2 separate regions of the Homo sapiens genome follow, and region 1 is linked to region 2. The links come from fine-mapping of genetic effects on gene expression. A gene starts in region 2. The other region holds a variant in brackets. All regions are shown on one strand. Distances are from middle to middle.

The links.
Region 1: its variant is fine-mapped to the expression of OR2B6 in whole blood (TOPMed, PIP above 0.99).

What each region holds. Positions count from the first base shown.
Region 1 is chr6:27,810,754-27,819,097 of GRCh38, forward strand. It overlaps H2AC14 (H2A clustered histone 14), which reads right to left and starts at 4,024. Exons shown (of 1, transcript NM_021066.3): 1 at 3,549-4,024. The coding sequence starts at 3,987. The coding sequence ends at 3,601. H2BC14 (H2B clustered histone 14) reads left to right here and starts at 4,269. Exons shown (of 1, transcript NM_003521.3): 1 at 4,269-4,736. The coding sequence starts at 4,291. The coding sequence ends at 4,671. RefSeq lists enhancers at 1-307, 3,658-3,807, 4,498-4,617, 4,728-4,787, 4,878-4,927. The variant G/A (reference allele first, on the strand shown) is at 3,996.
Region 2 is chr6:27,952,487-27,960,830 of GRCh38, forward strand. It overlaps OR2B6 (olfactory receptor family 2 subfamily B member 6), which reads left to right and starts at 4,755. Exons shown (of 1, transcript NM_012367.1): 1 at 4,755-5,696. The coding sequence starts at 4,755. The coding sequence ends at 5,696.

The sequences.
Region 1 (8,344 bases), 140 kb before region 2:
TCCCATCTCCGCAGCCCGGTTTTGACCGGATGGTGCTTCTAATTTTCTGCTAACCTGTACTGTGGTGTGTGTATATTTCTTGCCAACACGCCAGAAATAAAACTAAGGTTGTACTGAAGTTGGAAAAATTCAGGTTAATGTAGCTCATGCTGGCTAAAGTGAAACGTTCTCTCCCCGCCCCCCGTTCCTAAGCAGTGTTAAGTTTTCTTTGAATTTTTTCAAGCCGGATTTTGGGCCTGCTTAAACCACTTAAATGTAGTTAATGACAGATGGTTTGAGGTTTAAAAGTCTTCTGGAGAAAGCCCGCCAGAGAACATTCCCTTTGAAGCCCCATGTAAAAATACGTGTGGGAGAGAAAGTGTTTTCTCTGACTTCTGCTGACAGTGGCTAAAACTCTGAACTGTCAGGAGTATTCAAAATAAGACTGCCTTGTAGGTAAGCCTGTGGTAGTTTTTTTGAGCACAGGATAAAATACTTGAGTCTTTGCTTAAATGTTACTTTCTCAATGAGGCTTTGTATGACTAAATAAAATCTGTATAATCCCCACCTATTTTTTTCACCCTAGAATTTGTCACTATATGCTGTACCAGAGTTTGCTGATGTATTGCTTGTGTGTTCTAAAATACAGGCTCATGAGAGGAGGAACTTTTGTTTACTCGCATATCTCCAGTAACGTAGGAGCTTTTGATCAGTATTTGTTGGATAAATGAATGAATGCATGGGTATATAATAGTAAGGAGACATACCCACATGGAAAATCTCAAATGAAAGAAATACATCAGCTTGGTAGATATGCTCAAATCAGCTTCTTGTGGGCCAGGAAAGCCCTTACCTCATCCATTCTTGTATTCAGAATGCTAGATTTCTATAACTTCTTCTGTGAGCTCTCTAGCATTCTTATAAGTATTCAAGATTTTCCCTGGCAAATTGGCTTGTGTATGTGTGTTATCATCTCTGTCTCTCCTTAGCTTAACCTGTGAAGGATGTAAGTGGAAAGATCATAGTATTTTTACACTGAGTTTTAAAAAGCAGTTTTAATTCTCTATCTTGTTTCAGTTGGCTATTTATGTATCTTCAGTTATTAGAATTGGTTACATTCTTAATACACTTTTTTGGAAATTTGATATCAAGATCACTACTGCAACATTCACAATCTGCTCATCCTCATTTTCTTGTGTGTGGGTTCATGATTTCATTATTTCCACATATATGGAATTTAGAAAGATAAATAATTTATGATTAATATTTTACAAATTAAAATAATGCTTTAATACTTTTAATTGGAATCAACACCGTAAGCAAAACAAAATAGAGTTTTTCCCCTCTCAGAAATTAGCTTTCTTCTGGAAAGGAAGATACACTATTTTGGAGGGAAGCAGTGCCTCTAGGACACTTAGGGGCCCAACTGCTAAACCGATGGATATTGTTGAGTGTGTAAATAGTGCATTCCTTCTTTCTGTGCTGGGAAACTAAGAGCTAGTAATAAATCAGGAAGGGCTCACACAGAGACTGCCTGGTATGTACTAATCAATACTCTTGCTGGCTGGGTAGGGCATCCTCTCCTGGAGATATGCAGCCAAGATACTCCCAGTTAAATTTCCAGTTATAATTACATGAGGAATTATTTATTTAAGGGACAGTGAGTAGTTCTAGTTATGTGGAAATGAATACTCTATGTCTTTTCAAAACACTCCATGTACTGAATTACAATAGTCTGGTAACCATCCAACTCAGCTCATTTGTCAGGAGTTCATGACCAGCCTGACCAACATGGTAAAACCCCGTCTTTACTAAAAATACAAAAAATTTAGCCAGGTGTGGTGGCATGTGCCTGTAGTCCCAGCTACTCTGGTGGCTGAGGCAGGAGAATCGCTTGAACTCGGGAGGTGGAGGTTGCTGTGAGCCGAGATCACGCCACTGCAGTTCAGCCTGGGCAACAGAGGGAGATTCCATCTCAAAAACACAAAACAAACAAAAAATAAATAAATTTAAAAAAAAGGACATAATTCTTGTGTCTGAATTTCCTGAGATGGCAAAACTCATAAGTGGCATAACAATCCTTTTCAAGGCCCAAAATAAAAGGACCTTGATATGCCCATACAGAAATATGGACAACAGGCCGGGCGCGGTGGCTCATGCCTGTAATCCAAGCACTTTGGGAGGCCGAGGCAGGTGGATCGCTTGAGTCCAGGAGTTGGAAACCAGCCTGGGCAATGTGGCGAAACCCCATCTCTCCAAAAAATAAAATTAGCCAAACGTGGTGGCGTGTGCCTGTGGTCCCAGATACTCAGGAGGCTGCGTTGGGAGAATCGCTTGTGTCCAGAAGTTGGAGGTTGCAATGAGCCGAGATCGTACCACTGTCCTCCAGCCTGGGTGACAAAGCGAGACCCTGTCTCAAAAAAAAAAAAAAAAAAAAAAAAAGATAACATGAGGAACTGACCTCACTATTCTCAAAATAGCCTTTGGCTTTTCTCAGAAGAGATATTTTTTTCTGAGTGTAGGTATTCACCCACTAGTGCTCTTGGAATCAATAAGTATTCAGAACCAACCTTACCATCGAACATCACCAGCTTGGACTACTATGCTTGGCCATCTACTTATCCAGCAGTTACTAAGTATTTAACTCACTTACTAATTGTAAGTGTTTACAGGATACATTTGTAACATAACACCCAGGTACAAAAAGGTTAATTACATACAGAATTAAACAGAAAAATATCAGAACACATACAATGAAGTTAACTATTATTAACATGTGATTTCAGCAGTACACTAACATAAATACATGTAATTATTGGGTCACTGCCGAACATGTATATGTTTGAAAGACCCTTAATTAGAAAACTTCTAAGGCCAATTTTTTTTTATTCCAAACTCTTGTAAGTGCAAAAATTAAAAATAGAAAACAAAACATGACCAATGTATACATTGGTAAACATAAAACTGTCTGGTTTTGTTTAAATATACCCATTGAGCAGCTCCTTTCCTAGAGGCCAGGAAATAGGGCTGAGGACTCTACCCTCAGTTTTCAATCTAGAGACTGTGAAACTGTAGAGAAACACACTGTCTAGTAGCAATCCATATACTTTTTCTAGTAAGCATATTAAAAACCGAATACTATACTATATTCCTTACAGCCCAGTGAGTTTCCCAGAATCATAAATAAAACCCACCAGTACCTACTATGTAACTCCCAGTAAGAGGCTTTGACTTTTGTCAAAGTTGTGTCCCAGTAAAATGCCTTCAAGATACCACAAACTGGCCTGGCGCAGTGGCTCACGCCTGTAATCCCAGCACTTTGGGAGGCCTAGGCGGGTGGATTACCTGAGGTCGAGTCAGAGACCAGCCTGGCCACCAAGGTAAAACCCCTGAAAACACGTGTTAGCAAACGTACCTTGTTAGTATCTACATTAAGAAAAAAAAAAAAAAAAAAAACCTTGAAATTCAGGCAATGTAAACAGGTTAAAGATTAACACCGAAACATCATGAGTGTACTGTGTAGTGGTGAAGCAGCTGAAAACGGACTCGTGTCATCTTTTTATGATTGTTGAAGTGGCTCTGAAAAGAGCCTTTGTTTTTATGCGCTTTTCAACTCGGTCTTTACTTAGTCTTGTGGTGGCTCTCAGTTTTCTTTGGCAGCAGCACGGCCTGGATGTTGGGCAGGACGCCACCCTGTGCGATGGTGACTTTGCCCAGAAGCTTGTTGAGCTCCTCATCGTTGCGGATGGCCAGCTGGAGGTGACGCGGGATGATGCGAGTCTTCTTGTTGTCGCGGGCCGCGTTGCCAGCCAGCTCCAGGATCTCGGCGGTCAGGTACTCCAGCACCGCCGCCAGGTACACCGGCGCTCCAGCACCGACCCGCTCCGCATAGTTGCCTTTGCGGAGCAGGCGATGCACTCGGCCTACGGGAAACTGAAGCCCGGCCCGAGAAGAGCGGGTCTTGGCCTTGGCGCGAGCTTTGCCTCCCTGCTTACCACGCCCAGACATGGCAAAAG[G/A]TCTATTACCTTTACGGTCAAGAAAGACTGAAATGAAATTGGAAAAACGTACATTTTATAGCCTCTACTGGGCGCGAAAAGGAAGCTGTGCGATTGGCTTACGTTTTATTTTTATTTAGACCAATAGGACTCGAGTATGCAGGATACCTATTTTGATTGGGCAAAACTGGCATCTGACGTCATCCACGGATAATCACCAATCAGCACTGACCTATTCTACTCCTAATTTGCATAATAACATTTAAATAAAGAGGACGAAACAGCCCTAAGGTTGTCTTTTATTTTGTTTTCCACCATGCCTGAACCAGTCAAATCTGCTCCAGTCCCTAAAAAAGGCTCCAAGAAGGCCATTAACAAGGCTCAGAAGAAGGATGGAAAGAAGCGCAAACGCAGCCGCAAGGAGAGCTACTCTGTGTATGTGTACAAGGTGCTGAAGCAGGTCCACCCCGACACCGGCATCTCTTCCAAGGCTATGGGAATCATGAACTCCTTCGTCAACGACATCTTTGAGCGTATCGCCGGAGAAGCGTCACGCCTGGCGCATTACAACAAGCGCTCGACCATCACTTCGAGGGAGATCCAGACGGCCGTGCGCCTACTGCTACCCGGGGAATTGGCCAAGCACGCCGTGTCCGAGGGCACCAAGGCCGTCACCAAGTATACCAGCTCCAAGTGAGCCTCTCGCTGCAGTAACAGTTCCGCCGTGACCCACACCCCAAAGGCTCTTTTCAGAGCCGTCCACGTTTCTCAAGAAAGAGCCAGTTCACTGTTAAGTTTGTCTCCCATTAGGTACCCTTTGGGACTCGCTTCGTACATATAAATGTACTTGTATATGTGGGTTTTTTTTTGTTTTTTGTTGTTGTTTTTGAGGTGTAGTCTCACTTTGTTGCCCACCCTGGAGTGCAATGGCACGATCTCGGTTCACTGCAATCTCCACCTTCCGGGTTCAAGCGATTCTTCTGCCTCAGCCTCTCGAGTAGGTGGGACCACAGGCATGTGGCACCAGGCCCTGCTACTTTTTGTATTTTTAGTAGATACGGGGTTTCACCACGTTGGCCAGACTGGTATCGAACTCCTGACCTTAGGTGGTCCACTTGCCTCGGCCTCCCAGTGTTGGGATCACAGGTGTGAGCCACTGCGCCCGGCCCAAAATATTTTAAAGAGGATTATTAGCAACTATGAGTGACCGTGGCTTAGGGAAGACACAATCCCCCGAGACCATGAGAAAGTGGTTCTGAGGCAGTCAGAATGCAACTGTTTTGTACATTTTAGGGAAGCAGAAGTTATAGGTAAAGTCATAAATAAATATGTGGAGGGTTAGTCCAGGCGTGGTGGCTCACGCCTGTAATCCCAGCACTCTGGGAGTCAGAGGCGGGCGGATCACTTGAGATCAGGAGTTTGAGACTAGCCTGGCCAACGTGGTGAAACCCCGTCTGTACTAAAAATACAAAAAATTAAACGGGTGCAGTGGCACGTGCCTGTAACACCAGCTTCTCGGGAGGCTGAGGCAGGAGAATCGCTTGAACCCGGGAGGCAGAGGTTGCAGTGAACCGAGTCGTGATCGCGCCACTGCACTAACCTGGGCAACAGAGCAAGACTCTGTCTCAAAAAAAATCAGGTAAATCAAAGAAAATGAACTGGAAAAAATAATTGCTCTTAATATCACTGTGAATACCTAGTGAGTGTTCTGTAGATGTGTTACAGTTAAATTGCCAGAAATATTCTAGTTATGTTTAAATCAATTTTTAAAATTGTGAGAAAACTCAGATACCTGGAAGGATTCAAAAGGCATCTGCACTGAGATTGCTTTTCCAGAGCCTTTGAATCCTCACACTTCTTTAAAGAAACCCAACCTGAAAAATACTTTCTAACATATGTGTGATTTATGCTAGGAATTTCCAATTTAGGATTCCATTCAATAAATTATCAAAACGTTAGCAAAGACATATACATGTTAATAGATTAAGTAAGAATAATACATTCAAAGAGTGAAGCATATTTAAATAATTCCCAACTTTAACTTTAACTTTTGGTTGTCTATTGAAACTGTAGAATCCAAAGGAAAACTTCCCCTTTGTCCTCTGAAGGTTTGGTGAAAAGTCAACTCACAAAAGGCAGATTAATAGGAGAAAAGGCATACAAATTTATTAATGTGCATGGGGGAGAATCAGTGATTACTCCCTCCCCCTCCCCCCCACGCCCCATGCAATAGAATACAGATGATTACATACCCTTCTTCTCAGGGAAAAGGGAGTTGGGGAAGTGTGGATGATTTTACAGGGGTATTAAGTGATTTTTAGGGGAATTCAATAGGCTTGAATAACATAACAGCCTAGGACAAAGTCTGTTTGGCCCACAGACCAGACAATGATTTGTGGCAAAGGTTTGTCTCCGTGTGTTGACAGACTTCAGTCTTCTTGCGATATGAGTTTTCAGTTAATGAAAACTCAGAGAAGAGACCAGAGGTAATTGTTTTCTTCTTTGGCAGGTCTATACTTTAGAGAGATAAGGGAATTTCAGAGAACAACTTCATTCTCTGCTTTCAGATAGAGAAATGAGAGAGAGGAATAGGGGGAAGGTCCGAAAGACCTTGAGTACTCTTCTTCAGTTCAGTATGTCAAAGCTCCATATTTTGGGGAATCGGTTTCTGAGCCCGAACAATACAATCTCATTAGATGAAGCATCTATTCTTGATACAGGAGTATCATGTTAGAAACAAATTAAAGCTCAAAAGATTTTTTTAAAAAATTAGGCTGAGTGCGGTGGCTCATGCCTGTAATCCCAGAAATTTGGGAGGCCAAGGCAGGCAGATTACTTGAGGTGAGAAGTTTGAGACTATCCTGGCTAACATGGTGAAACCTCATCTCTACAAAAATACAAAGATTACCAGGGTGTGGTGGTATGCGCCTGTAATCCCAGCTTCTTGGGAGGCTGAGGCAGGAGAATTGCTTGAATCCAGGAGGCAGAGGTTGCAGTGCGCTGAGATCACACCACCGCACTCCAGCCTGGTGACAGAGCAAGACTACATCTAAAAGAAAAAAAAAAATTAGGAAAATACTATCCAGAAATCTTGGCAAAATTGTTTATGATTATTATTTTTGAGACAAGGTCTCACTCTGTTGCCCAGGCTGGAGTGCAGTGGCACAATCATGGCTCACTGCACCTTGGCTTCCCCAAGCTCAAACAATCCTCCCACCTCAGCCTCCTGGGTTGCTGGGACTACAGGCACAGGCCACCACCCTGGGCTAATCTTTGTATCTTTTTTGGTGGAGACAGTGTTTCACCATGTTGCCTAGGCTGTTCTCAAACTTCTGTGCTCAAGTGATCCTCCTGCCTTGGCCTTCCAAAATGTTGGAATTACAGGTGTGAGCCACTGTGCCCTGCCCCTATTTTTAATTTTTAATAGAACAAAACAGAATTTTGGGGTCGACACAATCTTTATATGTATGTACAGTCATTTTAGAAGAGATAAAATTCACATTTTGGTCACAGAATACTTAGCAAAACAATATTTAAAAGTTCTTTATTGAGTTGTTTTACCCATACACTAATTGATTTTACTTTCCCCATGCACTTGGAGAACTCTAACCCACTGTTATAGCCTATTGTGTAAGCCAATATTGGAGGTGTTGATGACTATATCTTGTTTTTACAAGTCATGTGGAGTGCAGACTGGGTTTCATTTTTTTTCCCCCTATAGTGCCTAGGTCAATGGTGACCCTACAAAATAAGGTGAATATAATGTGTCAATGTAATATAATGTACATCTTTATGAAGGAAATAAAAAAAATGGATATAAAAACAAAAAAAAAGCTTTAATTAATTAATTAATTAATTTTTGAGACAAAGTCTTGCTGTGTTGCCCAGGCTGGAGTGCAGTGGTATGATCTTGGCTCACTGCAACCTCCGCCTCCTGGGTTCAAGCAATTCTCTTGCCTCAGCTTCCCGAGTAGCTGAGATTACAGGTGCCTGCCACCATACCCAGCTAATTTTTTTTGTATTTTTAGTAGAGACAGGGTTTCACCATGTTGACCAGCCTGGTTTCAAACTCCTGACCTCAAGTGATCTGCCTGCCTCGACTTCCCAAACTGCTAGGATTACAGGCGTGAGCCACTGCACCTGGCCAAGAAGCTTAAATTTAAATGAGACAGAAATAGCACAGAGGCATTTGGGCTTTTGGGAAAAAAGTAGAGGCCGTTCAATGCAATGGGTACATTCAAGCTATGACTTGGAGGTTCATGGTCATGGTTGGGTGGATTCTACCTAGGAGTGCTATGTTTGTTAGTAACTTCACACTTAAATCCAAATGTCACAGCTGATTATTATTAAGCAAGGGTTAAATTCTTTGA
Region 2 (8,344 bases):
TATAAAACCTGCTAAAATTTGGGTGTTTTGAGCACTTATGGACGTTTATGATTATCTCACTCAGAAAAATTTGACTAAGGCTCCAGTTTCTTAATTCCATTTATTTGTTTTATACTGCTATTTGCAATGTTTTGTTATCTCTACTGGAAATTAAAACTTGAGAGCAGAGCAGTCTTAGATTTGAACCTTCTGTCTGCCTATGAAAATAATCTAGCCTATGAAAATAATCTCTCTGAACCTCTAAATTCAGATTTCTACCTGAATAATTAACCTTTTGTGAAACAGACAAAAAATATTGGCAAACTTTTCATCTATTCTAAGCCAAATTGCACTGTTGTGTGAAAAATTACTCCTAGTATTTATCCTTATACTCCAGCAGGAACATGGGGGTTCACTGTAGTATATTTAAAGCTTTTTATACATTCTCAGAGGTATGATAATTATAGAAAACTTAGAAGCAAACAATTTTTATGTCGAATGGAAAACAGAAAACTCTGGTGTTACCATAGATTAAACTGCTTCCCAAAGCCATTGAGTAACTTGCCCAGTAGTGAAGTGACTTAGTAGCAGCATCTAAACTACAGCTGTTGTCATATTTCTTATCTCAATGCTCACTGCATAGTAAACAGCTTAAAATAAAGTTTTCAGGACTTTGTTGAACCTCGTCATTCAGAATCCTCTGTCAGCCATATACTGAATAACTTCAGTATGTAGCTGATGGATGCAATCCCAACTAATATACAAGCAAACGGGTGGTGATTGTATTTATTCAGACAATAAAATTGAAATATCCTGAGTTATGTATAGATAAAAGTTCTAAAGGTCCAAATAACCCTTTTCAACTGTTGCTTTTTACAGTACTCAATTTTGTTTTTGCTTTGTTTGTTATGTTTTGTTTTGAGACAGGGTCTCTGTTGCCCAGGCTGGAGTGCAGTGGTGCGATCATGTCTCACTGCAGCCTCAACCTCCTGGGCTCAAACAATCCTCCCACATCAGCCTCCTGAGTAGCTGAAACTACAGGCGCATGCCACCACACTCAGCTAATTTTGTATTTTTGGTAGAGACAGGGTTTTGCCATGTTGCCCAGGCTGGACTGGACTCAAGCGATCTGCCTCAGCTTCCCAAAAATGCTGGGAATTCCCAGACTCAAGCAATCAGCCCCAGCTTCCCGCTGGGATTACAGGCAGGAGCCACTGTGCCTGGCCCAATACTCACTTTTTCTTACCTGCAGTTGTAAGATAGTTGCTATGCAATCTGATCCCTTTTGTCTCACATTATGAAAATATGTTCCTATGTTGACCAAAGGAAAGCTCGTTAACTCAAAATGAGAATGATATCCTCTGAAGATGCTGTAAACAGAATTCTATTCAGGACCAGAGAAATAGATTGTGTAGCCTTTTGCGATCTCAGCCATGACTGGGCACCACCATCAGCACAGGTGTAATCAGGTAAATAATTGGTTATGCTATCTGCGAGGATTTCAGAGATACAAGATTCCTACTTGTTTCCATTGTTAACAAGTCCTTCCAATCCAATGATAGTGATAAGAATAACAATTCAAATTACTTGAAACTTCTGTGTGCAAGATAATATTTCAACTTTTTTTTTTTTTTTTGAGATGGAGTCTCACTCTGTTGCCCAGGCTGGAGTGCAGTGGCACTATCTCAGCTCACTGCAACCTCCATCTCTCAGGTTCAAGTGATTCTCATGCCTCAGCCTCCTGAGTAGCTGGGATTATAGGTGTGTGCTACCATGCCCAGCTAATTTTTGTATTTTTAGTAGTGAAGGGGTTTCACCATGTTGGCCAGGCTGGTCTTGAACTCCTGACCTCAGGTGATCCACCCACTTCAGCCTTCCAAAATGCTGGGATTACAGGCGTGAGCCACCACACCCAGACAATTTTTCAACTTTTTAACAAAAGTTCTCTCTTTTAGAGTGGATATGTAAAGAGGTTACTGGATATTTGAAAGATGGGGAAATTTTGCCCCAAAAGTTAGCAAAGCAGAATATAAGAATGAGTTGTACTACAGTCTCCCCAGTACTTTTGTTCTCATGCAGGAGAAATTTGGGGCAAAATTTCCCTCACTGCTGTGGATCATGGACATTACCTATAACAGAAGTGCATTTAATACTTTTGTAATTGCTGAACCTCAGTGAGAAAGAGTAGAAGTTAATTGAATTCCTCCCTTCTAGAATTTTCATTAGTCAGGGCTTCTTGGAGAGTTTGTTTTTGGCTGTATTCTAGCAGAGAAATGCCAGATACAGGGCTGGTCAGGGAAAGCCACTGGCCCAAGTAAGGAGAAAGCATATGCAGTGTCCTCAGTGATGAGGTATCTCTTGAACAATAATTTGAAAATTATTTTAGTCTCCAATATTACAGCTAGAGAGACCTTATAACTTATCACCCAAACATGAACTCTTTTGAAGACTGAAGGGTTCTATTAGTAATTGTGTCAGAACAGCAGGAGTAAACTCGCAGTCCTGTGCAAACTGAGATATGCAGTGACCCTAATTATATAGACTGAGGGTATTTTCCAACACTTGTTAATTCAAGGAAATTGTGAACTTGTGAAATCTCTTTTTATGGATTCCATTTGTTCTGCTTTTCAGAATTCCTATAATGAGTGGCAACTCTTTTTGATTTTTTTTTGTCAATAAGATGCCGAATGCCCAATGCCCTTGCATTCCAGTCTTTAGAAAATGTCCATGTAGATTAATGTAGATCCTGTTTTAAAAATTTGTTGAGATAAAAGTCTAAATTCATATAAGATTGTTTCAGTTATAAAGTCTAAAGCAATGCTTGTCTTTATAGTAAAACATACAGTATGAATATGTCCTCACTTAAAGTTATTATATAATACATAATAATCTTTATTAATAATAAAAAGCATTATATTTGTTAAAAATTAGAAAAAGCAAGGATAAAGTTAAATATCAAAATCTGATTTTTCTCCCTCTTTCCATTTCCATTCCCCAGAAGTAACAGCTTTTAACACTTCTGTATACTTCCAGGTAATTTTATACATATATGAATACTGACCAATATGATTATATTCCCTTATGTAAACACATGGAAGCATGCTAAATACATGTTCAGAAACTTGTTTTTTTCCTTAAGGATTTGAATGTTTTTGTACATGTATATCTATATCTGAATTTATATCTATACCACATTCCTAATTTTATTGACAGCTGCATAGCATGTCAATAATATGCAGCTGTCAATAATATGCAGGGACTCATTTGAGAGGCTATAAAAGCTTTCCCTGCCATTTTATACTGAGAACTGTAGAATAAGTGAGCAAAATTGAAATACATATTGAATAATAGTTTAAAATTTATGATCCTATCCTTAAATTGACATTTTTACACTAACAAAATTATAATAAAACAATAGAGGGTGGTGGTAGCAAGATAGATGATTTGGAAATTTTTAACTGGTAGCATTGACTTATATTAGTACTTAGCAAATTTAGGGCTCTGAACAGCCTCTGCCCCGAATGTCTCAGAGTTCCTGTGTCATATGATACTTTCATTCACATTGCTGTGTGCCATTATACCAGGTAATTTACATTAAAGATCACATTTATACTTCACATCAGATAGTTATTATTATCTCTGTTGTTAAAGTTGATGGTATTGGAGTTGTGGAGAGAACAAGATAAATATTACCTCACAGAGTCATTTTTTATTGGCAACCCCAGGACATTTAAAGTTCTGAAAATCATACATAATTTTTCTCTGAGCATCAGAAGATGACTACAGTTCCTTTTGTCTACACTTTGTACCACTATCCCAGGAAGGTATTATTATACTCATTTTATAGGTGAGGAGCTTGAAGCTCACAAAGAGTAAGAAACATTCCCAGGAGGATGTAACTAATGACTTATGTAGTAGGGACATGGACCCAGACTTGTCTGCCTCCAAATTCCATGCTACTAATATCTTTTTATTCTAATTTGATAAGGTCTTAGAAGGCAAAAGATGTTTCCCTGAGATGTGTCTAATAGCTTGCTACAGCCTATATGCATAGTTTTTGAGGCGGTCTAAATAATTTTAATTGTTTCACATCGTATGTTCCCATTCATAAGTGGGAACTAAGCTATGAGGAATGACACAATGGACTTTGGGGACTGGGGGGAAAGGGAAGGAGGGAGCTGAAGGATAAAAGACTACACATTGGGTACAGTGTTCACTGCTCAGGTGGTGGGTGCACCAAAATCTCAGAAATCACCACTAGAGAACTTATTCATGTAACCAAACACCTCCTGTTCCCCAAAAACCTATTGAAATAAAAAAAAATTTAAGAAACTAACAAATTGTTTGTTTCAGATGACAAGGCAGTTTCCTTAACATTGAGAAATTAGAGTGAAAAAAATGTGTTAGAGATTATGACCGAATCTAATAATAGCTATCTATGTGGACAGTATTACAAAAATTAACCAAATGACAAAAAATCAAAGAAGAAATTTTGTGAAAGTTGTTTAAAATCAGGAATCTACTTTTTACATTTTAGCTTTCACTTTTGCAGTGATGATACAGATATAGAAAGATTAAATTTTAGAAATACTTTGGTAATTATGAGCATTTTCAACTGTATATTTTTCATGTAATAAAACAAGCAATATCAATTCTGTAAATATCTTCAAACAGGTAGTAAAATGACTATAAGTAACTGAAATAGTTAACAAATATGTGTTAATTGACTTCCTGAATTTTTCTGTTTCAGGAAACCAAGAGTTGAAACATTAATCATGAATTGGGTAAATGACAGCATCATACAGGAGTTTATTCTGCTGGGTTTCTCAGATCGACCTTGGCTGGAGTTTCCACTCCTTGTGGTCTTCTTGATTTCTTACACTGTGACCATCTTTGGCAATCTGACCATTATTCTAGTGTCACGCCTGGACACCAAACTTCATACCCCCATGTATTTTTTTCTTACCAATCTATCACTCCTGGATCTTTGTTACACCACATGTACAGTCCCACAAATGCTAGTAAATTTATGCAGCATCAGGAAAGTAATCAGTTATCGTGGCTGTGTAGCCCAGCTTTTCATATTTCTGGCCTTGGGGGCTACTGAATATCTTCTCCTGGCCGTCATGTCCTTTGATAGGTTTGTAGCTATTTGTCGGCCTCTCCATTACTCAGTTATCATGCACCAGAGACTCTGCCTCCAGTTGGCAGCTGCATCCTGGGTTACTGGTTTTAGTAACTCAGTGTGGTTGTCTACCCTGACTCTCCAGCTGCCACTCTGTGACCCCTATGTGATAGATCACTTTCTCTGTGAAGTCCCTGCACTGCTCAAGTTATCTTGTGTTGAGACAACAGCAAATGAGGCTGAACTATTCCTTGTCAGTGAGCTCTTCCATCTAATACCCCTGACACTCATCCTTATATCATATGCTTTTATTGTCCGAGCAGTATTGAGGATACAGTCTGCTGAAGGTCGACAAAAAGCATTTGGGACATGTGGTTCCCATCTAATTGTGGTGTCTCTTTTTTATAGTACAGCCGTCTCTGTGTACCTGCAACCACCTTCGCCCAGCTCCAAGGACCAAGGAAAGATGGTTTCTCTCTTCTATGGAATCATTGCACCCATGCTGAATCCCCTTATATATACACTTAGGAACAAGGAGGTAAAGGAAGGCTTTAAAAGGTTGGTTGCAAGAGTCTTCTTAATCAAGAAATAAGAAATATGCAAATGATAAGCTTTGCTAAAGACAAAATGTTTACTTAGCTTACTAACTTCTCTGTAAGTTGCCCTATTTTTGTTGTTACTGTAGAGAACAATGTAAACTCCCTCAAATAAAATTTCCTTGATGAAGAGCTATATTTACTTCTGTTGCCTTAATGTTTTCATTGAACAAGCCCCCAGAATTGACCTTCCAATTCACCAAAAATTGTAATCACAACATCTTCAAGGTTTGTCAAACATCCCATCAATGCTTGTACAATTCAATGTAAATTAGATCCGTAGAAAAGCCAGAAGTTCTTTCTCCAATATCACACACACACACACACACACACACACACACACACACTAGTTAAACGAGGCTCACTGAAACTCTCAAACCCCACCACTTCAAATTTGGATCTGAGGTTAACAATTCTAATTTTAAATTTTCCACTCCCGCATCAGCATAAGGAAATCTATAATAATTTTTATTCTAAAATTGTAACCAGATTTTCCATTTTCTTACCATATTTCTGTACTCATGTTTTTCCTACTAAATGAAGGCATTCTTTTTACTTCCTTTGCAAATCAAACCCTAGATATTTATTAGGTCCAGCTAATTTTCTTTTACATGAATTTTTTTTCATAATTCTCCCAACTATCAATATTATCTACCGTTCTCTTAAACCCTAAAGCACTTAACAGCTTAGATTCCAAAATAGCACATTATGTAATGATTTCCAAAGAGTTCTTGTTTAGTACTTTTGTCTTGCATAATAATAGTCTAATTATATTTTATTCTTGAGGGTACAAAAACTATACCATACATTTTACCACAACACCTTTAGAAGTCATCATAGTGCTGAGGAAGTAGCATGCATTTACATTATTAGTTGATTCTTTTGATTGTTGAGTGATTCATTTACATTATAATAATTTAACAACCTTGCTACCCTTCTTTATCCATTGTTTTCTTCTACTAATGCATTATACATGTAGAAAATACAATAGCTTAAAATATATTTATCATGTTTCTTATGAAAACCTACAGTAACTCCATGTACTTTTGCCATAATAAAATGTTAACAGAGAAATAAATCTGGTTTGCCAAGTTCTGACTTCAGTTTTCTCTCCTAATAGGGATAATTATCATAAAAAACATACATGGAAGCAAAATACTGATAAAGTATATTTAAAGCTTAAGACAATAATTTTCTCACTGAAAATTAATTCATTGCTAAAGGTCCAAATAAATGACAGATCAGATTACTGGAGACAAATGTGTATCTCAAAGCCAATGTCAGTGTAGTTTGGTGAATTATGAGGACATAGAAGAGAAAACAGAATTCCAGAAATTGAAATAGTTAATTTTTAAATTGAGAGGTTAATTGATTTAATTAATTTTATAATTGTAGATTTGGTTTTTAACTAGTATTTATATTGGTGTGCTGGTGTATAATTTTATACTGGTAACTTCTGTAACTAAGCTATTATCAGTTACCTTGAGAATATAAAAAATATATTAATTATTCATATAGAACAAGACATATTAAACTATCTCTCCTTTTTTGCAATTCTGAGAAATTTATTTTTCTAATACAAACCACTTTTAAGTTTTTAAGTGGTTTGTATTTTAAGGAGAATGTATTTTGGATTTTTTTTATACTTGTAGTAAAATATACATAAAATTTGCTAGTTTAACCATTTTTAAGTGTACAGCCAGTGGCATTAAGTGCATTCACATTGAGCGTCAATCTCCAGAATTTTTTCATCTCCTGAAACTAAAACTCTGTACCCATTAAACAATAACTACCCATATTCCATATTCTGTCCCCACCAGCCTCTGGTAACCACTATTCTATTTTCCATCTATGATTTTGAATACTCTAGATACCTCATATGAATGAAATCATAGAGTGTTTTTGCTTTGTGGGTTATTTCACTTAGCATAATGTCTTTAAGGTTCATCCATGTTGTAGCATGTGTCAGAATTTCTTCCCTTTTTAAGACTGAATAATATTCTATTGTATGTATATACCACATTTGGTTTATCTATTCATCAGTTGATAGGTACTTGAGTTGCTTTCACCTTTTGGCTATGTTGAATAATGCTGCCATGAATATCGGTGTATAAATATCTGTCTGAATTCCTGCTTTCAGTTATTTAGGGTATATACCCAAAAGTGGAATTGCTAGATCATACAGTAATTCTACTTTTAATTTTTTGACAAACTGCTATACTGTTTTCTGTAATGGTGGCATCATTTTTCATTCTCACCAACTGTCCACAAGGGCTATAATTTCTCCACATAGCTCATTTTAATAAAGTTAATTTTTATAAAGTGTTTTGTGATATCTATTTTATGACATAGAGAATAACCAGAAAATAGTAGAATTCTATTTGTTCATATCTATTTCTATATGCTCACTCAAAAGTTGATTAATGGAAATTACTCAAGAAGAGAGGTTTTATTGTATTAGGACATAAATATTCAAATATAAGAGCAATCGGGTCCAACCACCAATGGTAAACTAAATCTAGGGAATAAAACAACATCATATTTTGGAGGCTGAGGCAGGAGAATCACTGGAGCCCAAGAGTCAAGGCCAGCCTGGGTAATATAACAAGACCCATCTCTAAAAAAATAAAAAATAAAATTGAAC